3 linked regions of the Homo sapiens genome follow. The protein of the gene in region 1 purifies or fractionates together with the protein of each later gene. This does not show direct contact. Each region holds a gene or a part of one and is shown on either strand. Other genes may lie near its edges.

The links.
Region 2: the proteins of CSN2 (region 1) and CORO2A purify together in Homo sapiens (affinity purification with mass spectrometry; 2 studies listed by BioGRID and IntAct, with this or other methods). This does not show direct contact.
Region 3: the proteins of CSN2 (region 1) and PPP3CC purify together in Homo sapiens (affinity purification with mass spectrometry; 2 studies listed by BioGRID and IntAct, with this or other methods). This does not show direct contact.

The regions. Positions count from the first base shown.
Region 1 is NC_000004.12:69,955,240-69,963,435, forward strand, and holds the end of CSN2 (beta-casein isoform 1 precursor), read right to left. Parts: intron 5,769-8,196; 5' UTR 5,757-5,768; coding exon 5,706-5,756; intron 4,841-5,705; coding exon 4,814-4,840; intron 3,831-4,813; coding exon 3,810-3,830; intron 3,715-3,809; coding exon 3,670-3,714; intron 2,566-3,669; coding exon 2,035-2,565; intron 1,117-2,034; coding exon 1,111-1,116; 3' UTR 1,075-1,110; intron 354-1,074; 3' UTR 17-353; downstream 1-16. UniProt on the Homo sapiens protein: Important role in determination of the surface properties of the casein micelles.
Region 2 is NC_000009.12:98,133,638-98,141,234, forward strand, and holds part of CORO2A (coronin-2A), read right to left. Parts: intron 4,052-7,597; coding exon 3,935-4,051; intron 1,319-3,934; coding exon 1,169-1,318; intron 1-1,168.
Region 3 is NC_000008.11:22,534,481-22,541,625, reverse strand, and holds the end of PPP3CC (serine/threonine-protein phosphatase 2B catalytic subunit gamma isoform), read right to left. Parts: intron 2,158-7,145; coding exon 2,128-2,157; intron 1,895-2,127; coding exon of another isoform or gene 1,758-1,894; exon of another isoform or gene 1,690-1,757; intron 1,012-1,689; coding exon 824-1,011; 3' UTR 501-823; downstream 1-500. UniProt on the Homo sapiens protein: Calcium-dependent, calmodulin-stimulated protein phosphatase which plays an essential role in the transduction of intracellular Ca(2+)-mediated signals. Dephosphorylates and activates transcription factor NFATC1.

The DNA of each region.
Region 1 (8,196 bases):
GACAGAAGAACTGAAATATGCTTAAGAATAATTTATTGAAATGACTGGAAAGGAAATAGATTCTTAAAGAAATAAAAATAAGCACAATTCCAGAAACAATTTGTATACATATGTTTGATATGTTTGTAGCATTTCCAAATGAGTATTGAACTTCTGTGGTACTAGTTGAATTAAGATTTGGAAAATGTAAATAGTTCATGAGTCAAATTTCAAATTAAATGAATGACATAATATATAAAATAAATAAAGGGACAAAGTTCATTTTTTCCATATAAACTCATTCAAACATACTTAATTTGGGGTAACGTGATACAAAGACGGAAAAGGCATCATATTTCCAGTCTCAGTCAATTCTGTGGAATAGAGAGCAAATATATAATTAGTTATGTTATAACACGTAACTATTCAACTCTCTTCACTTTTAACTTTGGTGTGACTAATTCACAAAAGAAATTGTATTGCAAATGCATTCTGTTGCGGTTTGGAGGCATGTAAAGTTTGTTCACCAAACTTCACCAAAGTTCATCAAATATTAGTGAACTTGAAATTGTTTCAGTGAAATGTCTGGTATTTCATAATCCCAAAAGGCTTTATATCTTAGAATTGCAATGCTGTTCTCTCCTCTTTTTAACCTTTACACTTGGAGTAATTTTAACTCATGAATTAAAAGATAATTTTAAGTAAAGTAAATACAAATTTTATGAAGGCTAGGTTAGAAATAAAAATGCAAATAGGCTTTTGACAAAAGCTCAAATGTATTTCCATAAAAGTAAAATAAGTATATATTCTGTCTTTCCTAAAAATAGTGATAATCAAATGTAAGTATATAGGCCCTTGAAAGCAAGCCAGTCAAATCTGTCAATAGTACATAAATAAAATTAAAGTTATTTGAAATGCAAAAGATAGATAGTTTCAGGTCAGTAAATGATAGTCAACCATTAAATTGATAATTAATAAAAAAAGTTCTTGTATGTATGAAATTTTCACTGTATTGGACTTCTCTAGGAGAATTAAATGTAAAAAGACATCATGTATAAAAATGATCAATTAAATCTCCAAACTCCCAAAACTTACCAAAAATAAGGAGGGAAAATTAACTTTGAAATCTTCTTAGACCTTAAAAATAAACAGATACAAATAAATAAATAACCTCTTAGTAAGAAAACTTGCCTTAAGAATGTTGTAAGTAGTGAAATAAGCATCTCCGTCTTTTGCCTTCATATATATTTACAGCAAAAACCAGATGTGAAGTAAGGCTTGTGTAAAATAAATAAATAAATAAATAAATAAATAACCTCTTAGTAAGAAAACTTGCCTTAAGAATGTTGTAAGTAGTGAAATAAGCATCTCAGTCTTTTGCCTTCATATATACTTATAGCAAAAACAAGATGTGAAGTAAGGCTTGTGTAAAAGAGATGTGCACAAGGAAAATGACAGAACATTTTTTAGCTTTTTTTTCCAAATTCAATCATATTATTAAATTTAATTCCGGCTTTTGTAAGCCTTAATTACTTTATCTAAATCAGAATTCTCAACAGACTAATTAAACCAGAATTCATGCAATAGTTTTTTTCTCAACACTCAGTTTCCTCTACACAAAAAACTAGAACAATTATATCAGAATCTCTGGGTAAGCTTAGGCATTGGGATTTGTGGGGAAAAGTTCTCCAGGTGATTCTATTGTATAGGTAAGCATTAAGAATCACTTATCTATGAGAACACATGGACACAGGAAGGGGAACATCACACACCTGGACCTGTCGTGGGGTGGGGGTAGGGGGTAGGGATAGCATTAGGAGATATACCTAATGTTAAATGACGAGTTAATGGGTGCAGCACACCAACATGGCACATGTATACATATGTAACTAACCTGCATGTTGTGCACATGTACCCTAAAACTTAAAGTATAATAATAAAAGAATCACTTATCTAAACTGTTTTTTTAATTCATTTACTCTACATTTATTCTTTTATTCTACCATCACATACACATCTTGAATGAAACAGCAAAGCCAGTAAATTTGGACTTACACTAATGGGGTTATGAACTGGGGCAAGTGGCTGAGTCACAGGGTAGATCTGGTGGGTGGGGTTAAGTAGAAGTTCTTGGTTGAGCAGAAGGGCTTGAACAGGCACAGCTCTCTGAGGGTAGGGCACCACTTGCTGGGGGATAGGCAGGACTTTGGGCTGAGGAACAGACCACAGGGGCTGAGGGGGAAGTGCAAGAGTCTGAGGAATAGGCTGAGGGACCTGCTGCATCAAGGGCTGGAGCAGAGGCAGAGGAAGATGCAGATTTTCAAGATCAGTGAGTTTTGGGATTTGAGGGTCAAAAAAGGGTATCGTTGGAGATTTAAGGACAGGCATCACTCTGCCCTTAGTGTAGACAGTGTCTTTAGCTTTAGGGACTTCCATTATTTCAGGCTGAGGGACAGGCAGCACCACAGCAGGCTGAGCAAGAGGCAGAATGTTTTGTGGAAGAAAACCATAGGGGATAGGTTCAACGAATGGATAGATCAGAGGCTGTGGCTGGAAAGAGGGGTAGATTTTATCCTGGTGTTCATCCTGGAAAGAAGGAAAAAGAATCTTTGAGTCCTTGATTAAGCTATAATTGCCATTCATAATGAATTCATTTCTCTCTTTTAGACAATGATAAATGAGTAAAAAGAGAGGAGAAAATATTTCACTTATTTTGGTTAAGAAAGTATCTTGAGTCATGCGAAGAAAAATGAGTAAACTGTTTGTTGAAAAATTTTAATCCACTCACTTCATGGGTAACTCCACAGGCCAAAGTGAAATCAATGTTTGGATATTTCAGAAACACTTTTTTTAACATTTTCCTGAATTGCCTGGATAGCTGTAGCTGTACACTTTGGTCTTCAGAGAGAATTTACTTTTCAACACAGTTGTGCCAATAGTAGACCAAATTGTTTTCATACAGTGAAAAGAGATCAGTTTAAAAAGACTTAGAGGGACAATTCCAAGGTTTATTTTTGTTTTGTTTTGGTTTGATGAAAAAGAAAATCAGTCTTAATTTGTGGCTAATCTCAGGAAGTAATTTAACACCGGCCAAATTCTTACATTCCTTCCCTTGGGAGAAGATAGTCTCTTGAGTCTTTCAAGAGACATCAATTTTTTTGTTTAAATTTGATTTTAGAAATATTTTATGTGACTCCAAACAATTCATTGGTACACAAAGCAATTGAAAATTATAATTGGGTAAACATATCACCATAAATGTAATTTAATGAAATACAGGATTTTGTGTTGTCCATATGGGAATAAAGGCAATATGGGACAAATTTTACATAGGTTTTTTTACCAGCCGTATACACCTTTTCATTACCATATCCACCTTGGAAATAAGAGGATCATAGTTCCCAACCTGGAAATGTTCCCACCAATGTGTACTTGTTGAAAACAGATATACCATTAGTAATATCATTATGTATTTAGTCTGTATTCTAGAAATTAATTATGAGTTTAAAAATGCATGCATATCCTAGAAAATATATTGACTTTATCAATGTTTAATTTTTAAAGTGGTTGGTGGGTATATGGCATTTATTTTATTATCATTCTTTAGAATCAACATACACATTATAAATATTTTTGTATGTATTATACTTTATAATAATTTTAAACATATACTTATCATTAACAAATTACCTCTCCTTGCTGCTGGTCCTCATGTTTAACCTTCTCAACTTTCTGCTAAAGATATATCATATATAAAGATATGTTACCATCTGTAAAGATTAAAAGGAGGAAATTTTGAAAATGTGTACATTTTAAATGTGAAAATTTACCTTGTATTCTGTAATAGATTCCTACAGAAAAATATAAAATAAAATTAGGTTTAGTTTTAACAATTCTTACTTTGCAATATAAATCAGGAAATAAAGGCATTAATTCTTTGATAATATCATTAATAACTTTGTATAATCATTAAACTTATGTATTAAACTGTTCTATATGAGCTTGTTATGTAAAAGAAAGTCAGATGAATGCAGTCAAGAAGGACATGGTACAAAAAAAAGCAATTAATAGATGCTAATTTCTCTCTACCACCATGCTCATTCCCTGACAACAAATGATATCTAAAACCCCATCTGATTTTTAAAAAAAGAAATACTCATTGAAAATATATTCTAATAACAATTGATACATTATGATCACTTCAAATGAATCATAAGAGTTAAACACTTCCCTTAAGGATCATATAACCTTTCTGAAGAGACAGAATCTATTGATGTACCATTTACTTATCAAGTGATCACACACCCAAGAAGAGTGGTGTAAGAATAAATATCTACCTGACTCTCTCAGGTAAATTTAGGACTACACTAAATCTCGCTTATTTACTAAAGTGGCTATTGTAATTATAAAATGTGTCCTTTTTGCACGTCTGCCTACCTACTACTTAGCAAGCTCTTAACTATCACTGGCATCTCTAACTTTTCAGTTTGTACCACAGCTCCTAGTCAATGTCTGACCCATAGAAGGCCGTCAGTATATGCTTAAGGTGAATAAGTTCAGAGTAAAGAGAGTTCAAGGCAGAAAACAGGACAATATGGTTCATTAAAAAAAAAAGAAGCAAAATAACACAATTTCAAGTAGCAAGCCAATTTACAAAGTTCTAGAATGTTGTATTATCCAGATACTTATTGTCCTTAAACACACATAAAAGAAATATGTACTAGAACTTATATGTCATTAACATAGCTGCATTAGCTTAACTGCCATGATGTAACACCATAGAAAAATAGCACAGGATTTTACTGTTCTAAAATTGGGTAGAATGTTAACTTACCTCACTGCTTGAAAGGCTTTCTATGGTCTGTGGGAAAAAAAAATTGACAACCAGCTAAATCTTCTAGATCATTAGAGAATTTTACTATTTTATGGTTCATAAATTTTCTCTAAAAAAATAATCTCACCTCAGAGGATGCATTGGATTGTTCCTTCTGAAAAGATGTTTAAAAATTCAACTTCTATAGCTAACTCATTGTTAAACATGCATCCTACTTAATTTTTACATCACTTATGCAGAGCTATCTCTTTCACAAATTTGAGAAATAAAAAATGTTATATGACTTTTGAGGTTTAAAAGGTAATTACTTTAATGTCTTTTATATTTAGTAATCTATTAATATATTTTTATCTTACATTTATTAAAGACAGAGTTTTTTATGGGTAAAAGAAGAGTCACTTTAATTTGTATTAAATATTTTTATTATATTATTATTAATATATTTATGATCATGATTATGATTGTCTCTGTACTTCATCCCATGGATGTCTTTGTACAGACAGACACAGGATTTGACCCAGTGCCCTAGGCTGTAAGGTATATATACATTTTATCACTGGAATAAGATATATTTATCTAGCTTGAGAATCTTTGGAGTTGTATTTATGCAATATTATATTTCGTTGCCATTTTTATGATTTTTTATTACTTATTGATTTGTTTGCTTTTTCTTTAGTGACTAGCAGCACATTGGTGCAGGAAGCATTTGGGGCACTATAGGAAACTGTTGAGACAGTGGGTAAATATAAATGATTTTGATAGAAGCCAAGAGAATTCTCATGAAATTCTTCATTATTTATACAGTAAAAAATGTTGGTGATGTTATTCTCTACAAATAAGCATATAGTCCACTATTTATTGATTGTTTAGGAATTTTTTCTTGTGCACATACCTCCCTTGCAAGAGCAAGAGCCACCAGGCAGGCGAGGATGAGGACCTTCATGGCTACTAAGTCCTGTGAATGTAGAAAAAATGGAATGGTGGAAGATTGGTCAATTGGATATACTTTCTTATGTAGGTAAGGTTACTTTTTATAAAACAAAAAAAAAAGAGAGATAATATATAACAAAAATATCTGCATTTAGAAAATAAATAGAATAAATACTAAATAGAAGTTATATCACATGAAGGAGGTCAAAATCCATTCTGGCTTGCGATTCTCATTTTTCAAATTCCAAACTTCATTGCCAGCTATTCAGATTTTTCAGCTAACAACTCTATCCCCACTTTTAAAAAAGTCCCATTTACAGTATTGAATTTTTCAAAAGGCATAAAGAAGTTATAAATATGTATGGAAAGATTTATGCAACACATCAAAAAGCTTATCCACCATGATCAAGTGGGCTTCATCCCTGGGATGCAAGGCTGGTTCAACATACGAAAATCAATAAATGTAATCCAGCATATAAACAAAACCAAAGACAAAAACCACATGATTATCTCAATAGATGCAGAAAAGGCCTTTGACAAAATTCAACAACACTTCATGCTAAAAACTCTCAATAATTTAGGTATTGATGGGACATATCTCAAAATAATAAGAGCTATCTATGACAAACCCACTGCCAATATCATACTGAATGGACAAAAACTGGAAGCATTCCCGTTAAAAATTGGCACAAGACAGGGATGCCCTCTCTCACCACTCCTATTCAACATAGTGTTGGAAGTTCTGGCCAGGGCAATTAGGCAGGAGAAGGAAATAAAGGTCATTCAATTAGGAAAAGAGGAAGTCAAATTGTCCCTGTTTGCAGATGACATGACTGTGTATCTAGAAAACCCCATCGTCTCAGCCCAAAGTCTCCTTAAGCTGATAAGCAACTTCAGCAAAGTCTCAGGATACAAAATCAATGTGCAAAAATCACAAGCATTCATATACACCAATAACAGACAAACAGAGAGCCAAATCATGAGTGAACTCCCATTCAAAATTGCTTCAAAGAGAATAAAATCCCTAGGAATCCAACTTACAAGGGATGAGAAGGACCTCTCCAAGGAGAACTACAAACCACTGCTCAAGGAAATAAAAGAGGATACAAACAAATGGAAGAACATTCCATGCTCATGGGTAGGAAGAATCAATATCATGAAAATGGCCATACTGCCCAAGGTAATTTATAGATTCAATGCCATCCCCATTAAGCTACCAATGACTTTCTTCACAGAATTGAAAAAAACTACTTTAAAGTTCATATGGAACCAAAAAAGAGGCCACATTGCCAAGTAAATCCTAAGCCAAAAGAACAAAGCTGGAGGCATCATGCTACCTGACTTCAAACTATACTACAAGGCTACAGTAACCAAAACAGCATGGTACTTGGTACCAAAACTGATACCAAGACCAATGGAACAGGAAAGAGCCCTCAGAAATAATGCCGCATGTCTACAACTATCTGATCTTTGACAAAGCTGACAAAAACAAGCAATGGGGAAAGGATTCCCTATTTAATAAATGGTGCTGGGAAAACTGGCTAGCCATATGTAGAAAGCTGAAACCGGGTCCCTTCCTTACACCTTATACAAAAATTAATTCAAGGTGGATTAAAGACTTACATGTCAGACCTAAAACCATAAAAACCCTAGAAGAAAACCTAGGCAATACCATTCAGGACATAGGCATGGGCAAGGACTTCATGTGTAAAAGACCAAAAGCAATGGCAACAAAAGCCAAAATTGACAAATGGGATCTAATTAAACTAAAGAACTTCTGCACAGCAAAAGAAACTACCATCAGAGTGAACAGGCAACCTGCAGAATGAGAGAAAATTTTTGCAATCTACTCATCTGACAAAGGGCTAATATCCAGAATCTACAATGAACTCCAACAAATTTACAAGAAAAAAACAAACAACCCCATCAAAAAGTGGGCAAAGGATATGAACAAACACTTCTCAAAAGAAGACATTTATACAGCCAAAAATCACATGAAAAAATGCTCATCATCACTGGCCATCAGAGAAATGCAAATCAAAACCACAATGAGATACCATCTCACACCAGTTAGAATGGCGATCATTAAAAAGTCAGGAAACAACAGGTGCTGGAGAGGATGTGGAGAAATAGGAACACTTTTACACTGTTGGTGGGACTGTAAACTAGTTCAACCATTGTGGAAGTCAGTGTGGCGATTCCTCAGGGATCTAGAGCTAGGAATACCATTTGACCTAGCCATCCCATTACTGGGTATATACCCAAAGGATTATAAATCATGCTGCTATAAAGACACATACACATGTATGTTTATTGCGGCACTATTCACAATAGCAAAGACTTGGAACCAACCCAAATGTCCAACAATGATAGACTGGATTAAGAAAATGTGGCACATATACACCATGGAATACTATGCAGCCATAAAAAATGATGAGTTCATGTCCTTTGTA
Region 2 (7,597 bases), on another chromosome or scaffold:
GTTGGGTATAGAACAACCAGCACAAATACACGCAGCAGCTCTGCAGACACCCCATACAAACAGATGAGAAAGCGCTGTGGATCGGAAGAGCGAGGGCCCAGGTTCCCTCAGTGCTCCCCACAACAATTTTAGTTATTTATTTTTGAGACAGGATTGCCCAGGCTGCAGTACAGTGGCATGATCATGGCTCACTGTAGCATCAACCTCCTGGGCTCAAGTGATCCTCCCACCTCAGCCTCCTGAGTAGCTGGGACTACTTGACGCATTTTCCCACACCTGGCTAATTTTTTCTATTTTTTTGTAGAGATGGGGTCTCACTATGTTGGCTGGTCTCAAATCCTTGGGCTCAAGTGATCCTCCCACCTCAGCCTCTCAAACTGTTGGGATTACAGGTGTGAGCCACCATGTCCGGCCCCCCACCTCCCTTTTATCCAACACAGAGGGTCCCGAGGTGTCTCTGTAAACCCCTATAGTGTCAAAAGGAAAGAACTGAAAGGCCATAGCTATGGTGCCACCAATTCCATTTGTGTACAGATTGGGAAACTGAGGCCTAGAGAAGTCAAGGCACTTTCCCAGGCTATAGTGCAGGTCAGAGACTGAGTCGGAATAGAATTGAGGTCTCCTGTACTGTGGGTCCCAATCTACAGGGCCTACTGCCTGCATGCTTGATTGTCAGTGGAGCAGGGTCGGGGGAACGATTTTCTGGGCAGTGCCATCCCATCCACTCCGGGCAGGCTATAATGAGTTGAACAGGGTTCCCCCCAAAACTCATGTCCACCTGGAACCTCAGAATGTGACCTTATTTGGAAATGGGGTCTTCGCTGCTGAAATTAGTTAAGATGAGATCATAATGGATTAGGTGGGCCCTAAATCCAATGATAGTTGCTCTCCTCTTCCTATAAGGAAGACAGGTACACAGAGAGAAGGCCGTGTGAAGACAGAAACAGAGCCTGGAGTGACGCAGCTATAGCCAAGGATGCCTGGAGCCACCAGAAGCTGGGAGAGGCATGGAAGGATTCTTCCCTAGGGCATCTGGAGGGAGCTGGCTCTCCCAACACCTTGATTTTCGATTTCTGGTCTCCAGAACTGTGACAGAATACATTTCCATTGTATTCCAGTTTGTGGGAACTTGTTGGGGCTGCCCCAGAGAAAGAATACCCAGACTCACCTTGTAGTCATAGCCAGCACTGAAGAGGATGTTGGCGGCCGTGGGGTGCCACTCCACCAGGCCTACTCTGCGCGCGTGGCCCACGAGTTCCTTCCTGTAGGCCGTGAGGTTCCTGGTCAGCAGCTGCTTGGGGATGCTCCAGATCTTAATCTGGCAGGGGAGACAGGGCCCAAGGCAGCATTAGCCAGGGCACCTTGGCACCGTCACCAGCCTAAGCCACAGATCTGGCAGTGACCAGCAGAAGGACCAAGGGAGCTCTCTCCATAGCCACCTCCCACTCAGTGGCTATGGGCATTGAGGGGCAGTGGAGGGGCAGCTGAGGGTCCTCAGACAGACAGGGGCTTCCCCAAGCTCCTCCAGCCTGAGCAGGGGCCAGCGCTGACCAGGGATGAGTCTAGGCCTCCAAATCTGCCCTTGAGAGATCTTTGTCATCCTGCTGGCCTGAGGTGGTGGGCAGGTGGCTGGGTTTCAGGCCTGTCTCCTAAGCTAGGATATCCCCAAAGTACAGTGTTCTTCTTGTCCCAAAGACCCAGGGTAGAGCCTCAAATGCCAGGATGAAGGGTTTAGGCTGCATCCTCAGGCACTAGGGAGCCGGCGAGGTCTCTGCAGCAGGGCAGGGACAAACTTCTTGCTTTGGAGGTGCACCCTGGATGGCCTGCAAGAGGAAACTCTGAAGGTCAGGAGGCTGGGCTGGATGGGGTCATGGGCCTGTATTTCATGGTGAGGGCCTGAGAAGAGGTGCTGGGACTTCCTTCCAGAGTAGTGTTGTCTGAAGATGGAGGGGGCTGCCATGGCAGAGAGTAAGCTCCCTGTCACAGAGGTATACAAATGGAGTACAAGGTGATCCTGGGATGCTGCTGACTTGATCTTCCTTATTGGTCCTGCAAGGTTCTCTGGCCCCTAGTTGATTGTATGCACTGTTTCCCTTAGAGGTATACAGGTTTTTCAGGTAGACGACTTTGCTTTCAATTCAGCAAATATTTATTTCCTGGTCATCTTGGATTTAAAACCAGGAAGCCAACCCCACGAGAGTAGTGACAGGCTCCAGATACTTCGGTCTGATGAGGGCTGTCACTGCATAGAACCCCGGGAGGAAGACACACTCTGAAGAGGTATGTTTGGAAGATGAAGGTACCACCCGCAACACTGAAGCAGAGAAGACTCCCCACTGCTAGAGGAGCAACCGTGCCCTCCAGGCCCTGAAGGCAGGGAGGAACACCCCATAAATTCACTGTGGGCATAGCTTCGGGGAGGAAAGCCCCTTCCTTCTTCAGTCCCCCAACAGTCACGTCCTGCCCTGGGGCATCGGGGAAGGGGCAGTGGCAGGCAATGAGGCTAGCAAGAGATTTATAAAGATCTTGATGGGAGCCTTCAAAGCAGTCCTGAAAAGGCAGGTATCACAAAAGTGGGGACAGTTTCAGATATTTGATATCCTGCCAGAGGCCCTATACTCCCTGGGGACAGGGCCAATTCTCACAGGACCTGATTGTCCCTTTGGTGAAATCACCTCGGCAGACACTGTCCTTTACGTTCCTCAGCATCTGCTATATGGAAACCGACACAAATCCTCTTTGAATTTTCTGCCTTCCTTTCCTGATGAACTGGTCTGCTTCTTTTGATCTAACTGAAGGTTTTGCAATACATTCTGTTGCCCATTTTGCCTTGGCTGCCAGGTAGCTCTTAGCTAAACTAGCAGCTTAGCTGCTGCAACCCTTCTTAGCCATCATTTCTAGTATTTCCTCAGTTTCTCCATCTGTGGCTGCTTCTCTTTAAAGATGTGTCACAGCACATTGGAAAGAGAATGGGCTGTGGAATCAGACAGGCCTCAGTCTGAAGTCTTGCTCTGCCTCCCACAGGCTGTGTAACATTAGGCAAATTGCTGTACCTCTCTGATCCTCAGCTTCTCCATCAGAAAAATATCCTACCTTGTGGGGTTGCTGGGGAGACTGTGAAATGATAAGTGTGATGACAGTTAGGAATACAGTGGGCTCACAATAAATGGTGACAATGACTTTTATCTTTATTTTAATCATCTGATCATATCTGTGTTTTTTAATTTTTTAATAGAGACAGGGTCTCACTATGTTGCCTAGGTTGGTCTCCAACTCCTGGCCTCAAGTGATTCTCCCACCTCAGTCTCCCAAAGTGCTGAGATTACAGGTGTGAGCCACTGAACCTGGCATATCTGTGGTTCTTGTCTTAAGCCATACCACCATATTTTAGAAGTGGGTACAAAATGAATTGTAAATAAGTAACACTGAACATTGTTGGGGCAGGGATGATAACCCTGGTACAGAACACGGGCTCAAAAAAGTGAGTGAGACTGAAGCTGCTGGAATGGTTTTAGTGTCCACATTCATCCAAGGCCCTCACAGCCTTTTATAGCTCGCTTCCTCACTATGGGATTAAGTGGAACATCTTTTCTGATCACCATAAAAATGCCCCTCATAGCCTTTTATAGCTCCCCGAAGGATGGGTTTTCCCATCGGAATATACATTTTCACTGGGCTTTATTAGCTGGGTGGAACTATTATGCCCATTTTATATGGGGGGGAACTAAGGCCCATAGAGAGGAGGGGTGGTGCCGCTAGTCCTACAGCACCAAGAATGTCTCCTCCTCTACCTTAACTTAACACCTCCCCACACAGTGACCTCACCTCCGCGATGGAGTCAGGGGCACCAGAGCCAAGAACAGGTACCATTCCACCCCAACCACCCCAATCCCACTCTTCAGGAAGGGGAAGCCCCTCAGGGGCTGACACTCACTGTGGCATCTTCAGAACAGGAGGCGATCTCAAAATCATCAAAAGGGTTCCACTTGACATCCAAAACGTTGCCTCTGTGCCCGCAGACTTTTGGGTAGTGGGGGTCCAACTTCCCTGTCTGCAAGACAGTGCCCAGGAGGGTTGGGGAGGAGGTGGATTCCACATTAGCATCTGGACAGTCACATAGTCAGTTAGCAACCAGTCAACAGGAAAACATAAGGGACAGAGCTGGGTGTGAATCTAGGCCTTACTTCTTATTCCCTGTGGGATCCTGGGGGAGTTACTTCACTTCTCTGAGCTCTGGTGTCCTCCTCAGTAAAAGGGAGCAATCACAGGTATTTCACAGGTTGGTGTGAGGATCATGGGAGAGGAGGTATGGCACAGTGCCTAGCACATGGCAGATGTTCAATAAAAGGGCATTTCCCCTCACACACTGCTGGTAGGCATGTAAAATGGTGCAGCTCTTTTGGAAAATAGTCTGGCAGTTCCTCAAAAGGTTAACCGGTTCCCACATGACCCAGCAATTCCACTCCTAGGTCTATCTCCATGGAAAATGAAAAGATAAGTCCGCAAGAAACTGTTTCACCTAATCCCAGCACTTTGGGAGGCCAAGGTGGGTGGATCACCTGAGGTCAGGAGTTCGAGACCAGCCTGGCCAACATGGTGAAACCCTGTCTCTACTAAAAATACAAAAATTAGCCGGGCGTGGTAGCATGCACCTGTAATCCCAGCTACTCAGGAGGCTGAGGTAGAACACTTGAACCTGGGAGGTGGAGGTTGCAGTGAGCTCTGATTGCGCCATTGCACTCCAGCCTGGGTGACAAGAGTGAAACTATGTCTCAAAAAAAAAAAAAAAGAAACTGGTTCACCAATGTTCACAACAATATTCTTCATAATATCAGAAAGTGGAAACAACCCAAATGCCCATCAAGTGAAGAATGGACATACAAAATGCAGTATATTCATGCAGCAGAATACTACTGTCCCTAAAAAGAGGAATGAAGTACTGGTCCCTGCTACAGCATGGATTAACCTAGAAAACACTAGAAGAAGAGGCCAGGCACAAAAGGCCACACGTTGTGTGATTCCACTTAGATGATGTTCCAGATGTGGTTTCATTGCCTGAGCACATTAATGCATCCCCCTGGTACCTGGTATCTGGAACCCTAAGTAATGCATATGAAAAATGCAGAACGGGCTGGGCGCGGTGGCTCACGACTGTAATCCCAGCACTTTGGGGGGCCGAGGCGGGTGGATCACGAGGTCAGGAGATCGAGACCATCCTGGCCAACATGGTGAAACCCTGTCTCTACTAAAATACAAAAAATTAGCCCGGCGTGGTGGTGCACGCCTGTAGTCCCAGCTACTCGGGAGGCTGAGGCAGTAGAATCGCTTGAACCCAGGAGGCAGAGGTTGCAGTGAGCCAAGATCATGCCACTGCACTACAGCCTGGCGACAGAGCAAGATTCTGTCTCAAAAAAAAAAAAAAAAAGAAAGAAAAATGCAGAACGATACATTCATGGAGACAGAAGGCAAGATTCTGGTTGCCTCAGGCTTGGGAGAAGGGGCAATAGGGGGTGACTGCTAATGAGTGAGGGGTGTCTTTTTGGAGTGACAAAATGATTTTGAAATTAGGTGGTGGTGACAGTTTATTCACAGTATATTCACAACCTTGTGAATATACTAAGATCCACTGAACTATACACCTTAAAACGGTGAATTTTCCAACATGGCAACAGGACAAAACCCCGTCTCTACAAAAAATCAAAAAATTAGGCCTGGCATGGTGGCTCACGGCTGTAATCCCAGCACTTTGGGAGGCCAAGATGGGTGGATCACCTGATGTCAGGAGTTTGAGACCAGCCTGGTCAATATGGTGAAACCCCACCTCTACTAAAAATACAAAATTAGCCGGGCGTGGTGGCACATGCCTGTAATCCAAGCTACTTGGGAGACTGAGGCAGGAGAATCACTCGAACCCAGGAGGTGGAGGTTGCGGTGAGCTGAGATTGTGCCACTGCGTTCCAGCCTGGGCAATAGAGTGAGACTCCGTCTCAAAAATAAATAAATAAATAAATAGCCAGGCATGGTGTCGCACACCTGTAGTTCCAGCTACTTGGGAGGCTGAGGTGGGAGGATTGCTTGAGCCTGGGAGGTCGAGGCTGCAGTCAGCTATGATTGTGCCACTGCACTCCAGCCTGGGCAACAGAATGGGACCCTGTCTCAAACAAAAAACAAAACACGGTGAATTTTCTGGTATGTGAATTCTACCTCAATTACATAGAAAGGGCATTTCCCTCATTTTCCCCTTTCCTAATGAGAATTCCTGTATAGGTGCTGGGAGGGACATACAGGTCCCCCAGCCCATGCCACACAGCCCTGAAGCTATTTCCAACTCCACCAAGAGACTTGGATTTCTTGGGGTCATAGAGAAACCACACCAGTTCAGTCACAGAACCTTGGACTGGCAGTGACCAATCTGCTCATTTTGCACATCACATTGCATGGCCCTGGCAGAACAGGGACCAGGACCCAGGCCCTCGACCTCCCACATCCACCATCTAGTTCCAGGTTCTTGAGCCACCCACCAGAATGCTCCCCCAGCCATTTTTATATCTAAGTGAAAGAGACAGCTGAGAAGAAAACTGGCCAACATCCATCCATCCCACAAATATTCCCGAGGTGCCCAGGGGACAGGTGCTGTTGGAGGGGCTGATTGCAAGGTGAACACTCAACATAGTCCTTGACTTTGCAGAATCAATAGTCTTGGGATTTTTTCTAGAGGGACTTTCAAGAACAGGGTGGACTCAGGGAACACCCAACCTTCTCTTCTTCCATCACCTCCCCATCTGTGTAGAGACCACTGTACTTGTTTTTTTTTTTTTTAAGAGACAGGGTCTCACTCTGTTGTCCAGGCTGGAGTGCAGTGGTGCAATCATGATTCACTGTAGCCTCGAACTCGGGGTAAGACAATCTTCCCACCTCACCCTCCCAAGTTCCAGGCTAAGAACTACAGGCATGTGTCACCAAGCTCAGCTAATTTTTAAAATTATTTGTAGAGATGGGGTCTTGCTATGTTGCCCAGGCTGGTCTTGAACTCCTGGGCTCAAACAATCTTCCCAACTTGCCCTCCTAAAGTTAGGGATTACAGGCATGGGCCACCGTGCCTGGCCTATGCATGCATTTTAGTAGCTCTGCAAACAGAGGAGGTGGTCCTGTGCCTCCCTCTGGAAATACTCTGGCTAATCCAGGTCTCTCCCCTCAGGAAAAAGTGATCAGACACCTCCGCCTAGACTGGATCCCCTACTGGAGGGGACAACGCTATAAAGGACATTATTTAACAAATCTAAACAAGAACGGTAGATTACAGTATTATCACAACATTAAACTTATATAAGTTGATAATGTACTGCAGTAATGTAAGAGAATATTTGTATTTTTAGGAAACAGTATTTAGGGATGAAGGGCTAAGATGGATGTAACTTACCCTCAAAGAGTTCTGAAAACAAAAAATTATACACACACCTACACATTCAGAGGGAGAAAGAGAACCAAAAAAAAAGGAAAGAATGTGGACTTGTGTCCTTTGTTAGTGATGTGCATGGAGGGAGGTGAAAATTTTCTCTCTTTCAAGTGGTCTCTGCCTCTTCTACAGCAGGACAGG
Region 3 (7,145 bases), on another chromosome or scaffold:
ACTTCCTTTACAGAAGTCACCTGGGGTTCAAAAATGAAAGTAAAATAATCTGGCAATTGTGAAAGCTTTCTGAAAATCTTTCTCCTCCAAAGTCCTAAGGAAATTTAAACCAATCATGCCCATGGTCAGATGAACAGATTTTAAGTAAATCTAAGAACATCCCTTATTATTTTTTATTTTGTTTACTAGAACATATTTAAACGAACTGAGAGTCCAGAGAAAGTAGGTTATTATAGAAAACATTTCCCTTCGCCCTTAAAATCACTGGATTTGGGTTATTCACTTTGAAGTTCTACTATGATCCAGTTTCCCATCAAAAGGGAAGCACTTTTAGCCACTGAAATCTAAGAGGACTTTCTTCAATGGCACCCAGCAGAAAAGGAAAAAAATGAAAAGGAAAAAAATCTTCTTGCATTTGAAACGTTATTAGTCTTACATGAAAGACATTACCTTCCAAAAAACAATAATGAAGACTGACTAGTTCAAGTCAGAAACCCAGGTTTGAGGTTTCCAAGGCCCTTTTATTAGGGGAAGTTCCCCTTTATAGCACAAGACTTCACAAATGTGTTGACAACAATCAGATTCATTTCTTAAAATTATGGAGAAAAAAGGGAAAAACAAAACAGATGCACTTTTTATATATATTGAACATAAATTAAAAGAATTTATAAAACAGCCACCTTTTTACAGAATAAATGCAGACTGAATTATAAATGCACCTCCACGTTGAAGTTGTTTTGAGTTGCTTTTCATTTTCCAATAATAAATAAATAGAATTTGTTCTTGAGTTTTAGATCCACCTGAGCCACGGCAGGACTCTAAGTCATGAATGGGCTTTCTTCCCTTGGTCGCTCCTGTGCGCAGCATGTGAGTGTGCTGAGGTTACAGATTTCATTGGCCCACCAGCGTGTATGCTATCCTTTCGGGGTGGCATTCGCTCATTAATTCGGTCCAGACCTCGCGCTTCTTCAAAACTCCGGATCTTGTGCTGAAGCGAGAACCCTCTGATGGCTACAGAAAAACAGGAAGCAGGTGGAGAGAGCTCAATTAGGCAGCAAAGCAACAGGCTTAAAAAAAGTTTCTTAGCACACAGCAACCTCCTAGAGAAACACACAGAAAGGTGGCTATGGAGCACACGTCTAGTGAAAGTCATGGGCAATGTCTGACTGAATCAGTCTTGGCTGCAGCTACTGCTTCCTTAAAGCCCAAAGGGCAGCTGAAATTGTGAAAGTAATTTTCATAAAAGCTCTATATGCATAATCATGGTAGACATATACCTAACAAAAAGCTAACAAGTACTTACTGGGCCCCAGTACCTTTAAGAAAGAGTGTCTTATGCACCAGAAACATACTCAATGCTAGAACAAAGGCAACACTAGAATAATTGAACAAGTTAAACCCAGGGTAGTTGCTTTTCGCACAAAGGCCACATAGACCACAAAAAAAAGTAACAAAAGAGCTAATCTTTTCGTTTAGGACAGCTTTCTATCTTGCACAACCAGGAGCTGTACATAAGTTAAAAACTTAAAAATAGCTTCTACATATTTTCCTTCCGATTCAACTTTTATAACACCAAGTTAAGGCATTCGCGTTTTGAACCATCTTACCTAATAAAACAATTACAAGTATAATACAAGTTTATCAGTTCCAATGGTTTTCATAGAAACAAAGTTAATTTAACTTGCCTACCTTAGGGCAACCTCAGAAATGAATTGAACTAAATTCCAGTCTACTTCTGCCTCTGCTCTTGAAATCTTTTAGAATCGCTGAAGAGGCTGACCTATTTGGCTCTCTTGAGAATCAAATGGATGTCTCTTGTACATGGAAGGGATACAGAAGTAAACCACTTGACCTCTCATGACCAGTTGCTTAAGCTTCTGCCGTTGCATTAAAGCTGATAGAGCCCAGAAAAAAAACTGTAGCTGTGGTGAAGGTTATTTAAAATTAATGCAAAGATAGGACACAAAGGAAACACCTGCTTCGTTAACATGCCTAGAAACAACTATACCTTTTCTCACTGTTATAGTTCTGGTGATGCAATAATAAAATATTTGAAATGTTGATAAAGCTTCGAAAAACCAGTACACAGACACATGGATCACATCTATCAGAGTAATATGGCCATACCTTCCCGGGCCTCTACCGCTTCTACTGTGGCTGTAAGAGGGCAGGAGCAGTAGCATGCAAAAACGAAGACAGAAAAAGAGTGAGTAAACCAACAGCACTGATGGCAGCACAGCCATCCCAGGGGCCCGTTTTTTAGCCTATCCCCATCCATAATGAAAGTCAACTAGTTAGAGAAGCGAGAAGATTATTGCGAGAGACTCAATTGGGGTGGGAGGAATATGGGGTGGGGGAGAGTTTCTAATATTTTTAACATTTCAGGTGCCATGGAACATTGCTCTTTTCATTTTAGGTAGCCAACTGCTACTTTATATCTTGATATCCACGTATCGAAACAACATGTAGAATCAAATAGTTTGACATCACAACAATCCTTAGTTTGTAAAATATCTCAGGTGATATTAAATGAGCTACTGCTGGGTCCTATTCAAAAAGCTTATTTACAACTACATCTTACTGCTCTCAAGTGACTTATTTGGAGTCCAACTGCCCTATTAATTACTTCATTTAAAAAAAAAAGAGTGGCCTTTGAACAGCAGACTGGCATTTGGAAGGAGAGAAAAATAGGTTCCATGTGAAGGGTTATTTCTTGTCCAGGAGTGGAGTACAAAGCTAACAAAAGCATAGAACTATTGAATTCCTAATGCAAATGTGTGTACCCATCTGCTATAAAAATATAGCAGAGGCTAATGTTTCCAATCCATATGGCTTCCATACAGTGTTCAAGAGAGTTGGCCAGTAACTAAGAAAGCCCTCTTCTTTCTTAGCAATGGAAAAGGAAGCAACTTAAAAATTAGTACCAACAGGTAAACTTCCTTGCATCTCCTTTCTCAGACAGTAAAAACGCTAATATATGAAAAGGTACAGGGTGCCACAAGAAAGATCCTATTAGGAGAACCCTGTCAGTTACTCCAGTACCAATTTGCCAAAAGAAGGCAGTGAAGAATAATGAGCAGTAACAGTTTGCTGCTATTCCCAAGGCTTTATATATCAATATGAGAAGAGAAACTGAAAGAACTACATTAACTACCTAATGGAATGTGAAAAATGGATAACTGAAATCTACTTATGAAGTGCTTTCATTTGTCAACCATAGGCAGGCATGTATTAAATCACTGTCACACCCTCTCTAATCTCCTTAAGTAGAACAAATACCCTTGACAAGAAAGCTACAGTGCCTTCTCACAGCACATCACTGATGTAACTGTTAGGAAGTGGGAGAACAAAGCATTGCTGAAACTCTACACTGAGTGTTGGTCTAATTAGAGCTTAAAAGCTACACGGTAAAATGTGTATGATATTACCTTGTTTGGGGCCCTCCCAGAATTGCTATTCACATTGGGTATAAAGATAGCAGCCTGCAGTAAGGGCCATTATAAGAAACAGTCATATCAAATGACCCGAACTTTTGTTTTCCTTTTTAACATCTTAACTGAAATAGAATTCATATACCACAAAACTCACTTGTTTAAAGTATACAAGTCAATGGTTTTAATATAGTAGAGCTGTGCAACCATCACCACAATCTGTGCTTAGAATATTTTCATTGCCCCAATGAGAAATCCCCCACTTATTAGCACTCACTTCCCATTTCCTTCCCTCACCTCTTCCCCTTAATCCTGGTTGAACACGAATCTACTTTCTCTCTAGATTGGTCTGTTCTGGACATTTCAAATGAGTGGCATCATATAATATGTGGTCTGTAGTGACTGACTTCTTTCACTTAGCATAATGTTTTCAAGGTTCAGTCATGTTGACATGTATACCTGCATTTAATTCCTTTTTATGGCTGAATAGTATTCCATTGCGTTTACCACATTTTGTTTATCCAGTTTATGGACAATTGCTTTTTTCTGCTTTTTGGCTATTATGTTGAATGCCATTTATGAACATTTGTGTACAAGTTTTTGCGAGGACATATTTTCATTTCTTTGTGGGGTATGTAGCTATGACTGGAATTGCTGAGTAATAAGTCAATTCTATGTTTAATCATTTGAAGACCTGTCAGAATGTTTTCCAAAGCAGCTGTACCATTTTACATTTCCACCAGCAGTGTTAAGAAGGTCCCAATTTCTCCACATTCTCATCAACACTTCTTATTAACTGCTGTCTTTTCACAGCCATCCTACTGACTGTGAAGTGGTATCCCATTGTGGTTTTGATTAGCATTTTCTGAATGTCTAATGATGTCAAACATCATTTCATGTGCCATTTGTATGTCTTCATGGGAAAAATGTCAATTCAATTCTTTACCCATTTTTAACTGGGTTGTCTTCTTATTCAGTTGTAAGAGTATATTTTCTAGATACCAATCTCTTAGGAGATATATGATTTGAAAACATTTTCAACCATTCTGTGGGATGTCTTTTCATTTTCTTGATAGTACCATTTGCAGTACAGAGTTTTTAATTTTGATGTAGTCCAATTTATAACTGATCTGTTTTAATCTGATGGTCTTTGTGAATCTTGTCCTGTCCTTGGCTTTCCCCACTATTTTGGCTACTGGGATGCTTAGAGTCAAATTTGTGGCTATTGGCTTTATTTTTATTTACCTTTGTGCTTCAATTTCCAAGCATATTTATTTTACTCCACTATGTTTCATGTATACTGTAACTCACGCCAATCCCTCTTAGATCAAGGTGAGACATACATGAATGTATGTTACATGGCCATATGGGATACTGTTGGTTGAAAGCTCTCCAAGTTAAGTTATATGAACAATAAAAGGTCTTTTTTAGTTAATGCTCCAGTTAGCCAATGAGCTGGTGGAACTGAGACTCCAATGTGAAAATAACAAAATAAACTCACTTCCTGTGAATCAATAAGAATAAGAAACTCTAAAAAGTTGGCTCCAACTTTACCTTTGTTCTCACACATTACTGAAGATTTCTATCAACTTTGGAAGTATCAATCAATGGTCCTATCTTGATTAAAACACTCATATTCAACTCATACTTTGGGGCTGAGCCCAAAAGGTGACCAAGAATTAGAAACAAATTTCCAAATAACATAGCTATATAATTCTGTTGCTCAGCCCTGATTTGCAGATTTGCTTTCTCAAGGTTTAGACAAAGTTGGTTTCAATTAAAACAATTTTGTGGATCAGCAAATTTTCATAATGTTTACCTAAGGATGCTATAGGACATTCCTTTTTTTCTCTTAACTCATGTTACTGCCTATTACTCTATCTTTGTTGTCAGAGTTGCTCTCGGAATATCTCAGATGACTAATTACCAAGCAAAGCAATGGTGGGAACATATTCTGCTCACAAAAAACTGCACATTTATTTGAGAAAAATATTCAATCGGAAATAGTTTACTGATACTTTCTGTGAAACTAAAGGAACTAGGAAAATAAACTATACTTCCAAAGAGAAAATGTTCAGACTTCCTTCTAAATAGCTGAACTCTAATATCTCAGTATTCTATTTGAAAGAGAAGGAGGAATTCAATCTTATAAAAAGAAAAAAGGGCTGGGCACGGTGGCTCACGCCTGTAATCCTAGCACTTTGGGAGGCTGAGGCGGGCATATTGCCTGACCTCAGGAGTTCCAGACCAGCCTGGGCAACATGGTGAAACCCCATCTCTACTAAAATATAAAAAATTATCCGGGCATGGCGGTGTACGCCTGTAGTTCCAACTACTTGGGAGGCTGAGGCAGGAGAATTGCTTGAACCTGGGAGGCGGAGATTGCAGTGAGGCAAGATCGTGCCACTGCACTCCAGCGTGGGCAACAGACCAAGACTCTGTCTCCAAGAAAAGAAAAAAAATGGGTTTGTCCCTGTTAGTCAATAGCAATGAAATTTCTACAAAAGAAAAAGGACTCCTATAAATGGCAGGATGGCCAGGCACAGTGGCACATGCCTGTAGTCCCAGCCACTCGAGTAGCTGAGGCAGGGGGATTGCTGGAGCCCAGCAACCGGGCGCTGCCATGAGCTATGACAGTACCTAGCCATTACATTCTAGCCTGGGCAACTCTGTCTCTTGGGAAAAAAAAAGAAAAAGAAAAAAGGCCAGATGAACGATGAGGTGGGAAAAAAACTAAATAGAAACAATTCAACAAAACAAGGGGAGCAAAAAAAGCAGTTAAACTTTAGTTTAAGATATTAATGCTTCAATACCAATTTTCATACCTAGTGTTAGTCACCCAGTAATATGATCTCCTGTCTCTTCCCCTTGCATGTTTATTCTCACGAACATCAACCTTTTCATTCCGGGATTCCAGAAAGCCCTTTCCTAAGAAGTCAGCTCCTGGGTAAATTTCAGAATTGGTACTCTGATTGAAGAGGTGATTTTGGCACTGGAATAGAATATGGCTGCAGGGAAAGAGGCAAACTCCCTCTCTGATTGAGAAACTGCAACCCCCTCAAACTGTTTTCTTTAAGGTACAAAATATACACGAGGCACAGCAGGTGCACAAATCTGAAGTGTACAGCTCAACACATTCTTACATAAGTATACGCATGTCTAACTACCACCATGATAATGATACAGAACATTCCTAACACTCTAGATGTTCCCTGTGCCCTTCTGGGACAATATTCTCCCACCAGAGGAAGTGACATTCTGACTTTATTATCACTGATTAGTCCAATGGTTCTTAAATATTATATAAATCAGACAGTCTGTGCTCTTTTATGTCTGGCTTTTGCAGTTTTCTGTAATGTCTATGAGATTCAACCATGTTGTAGCATGTGTCCATAATGTGTTATTTTTTATTGCTGAGTATTATTCCATTGTATAAATAGAATACAGTTTATTTATTTATATTTCGGAATACAATTTATTTATGTAGTCTGCTACTGATGGACATCTGGGTTGTTTCCAGCTTTGAGCTATTATGAATAAAGCTACAGTGAACATTCCCATGCATAACCTTTGGTGAACACATCCAGTTTCTCTTGGATATACACCAGGTGTGGAACTGCTGGGTTACAGGGTAGACATATGTTTAGCTTTACTGCCCAGTAGTTTTCTAAAGCGCTTGAATCAATTTACAAGCCCTTTAGCAACATACCTAGT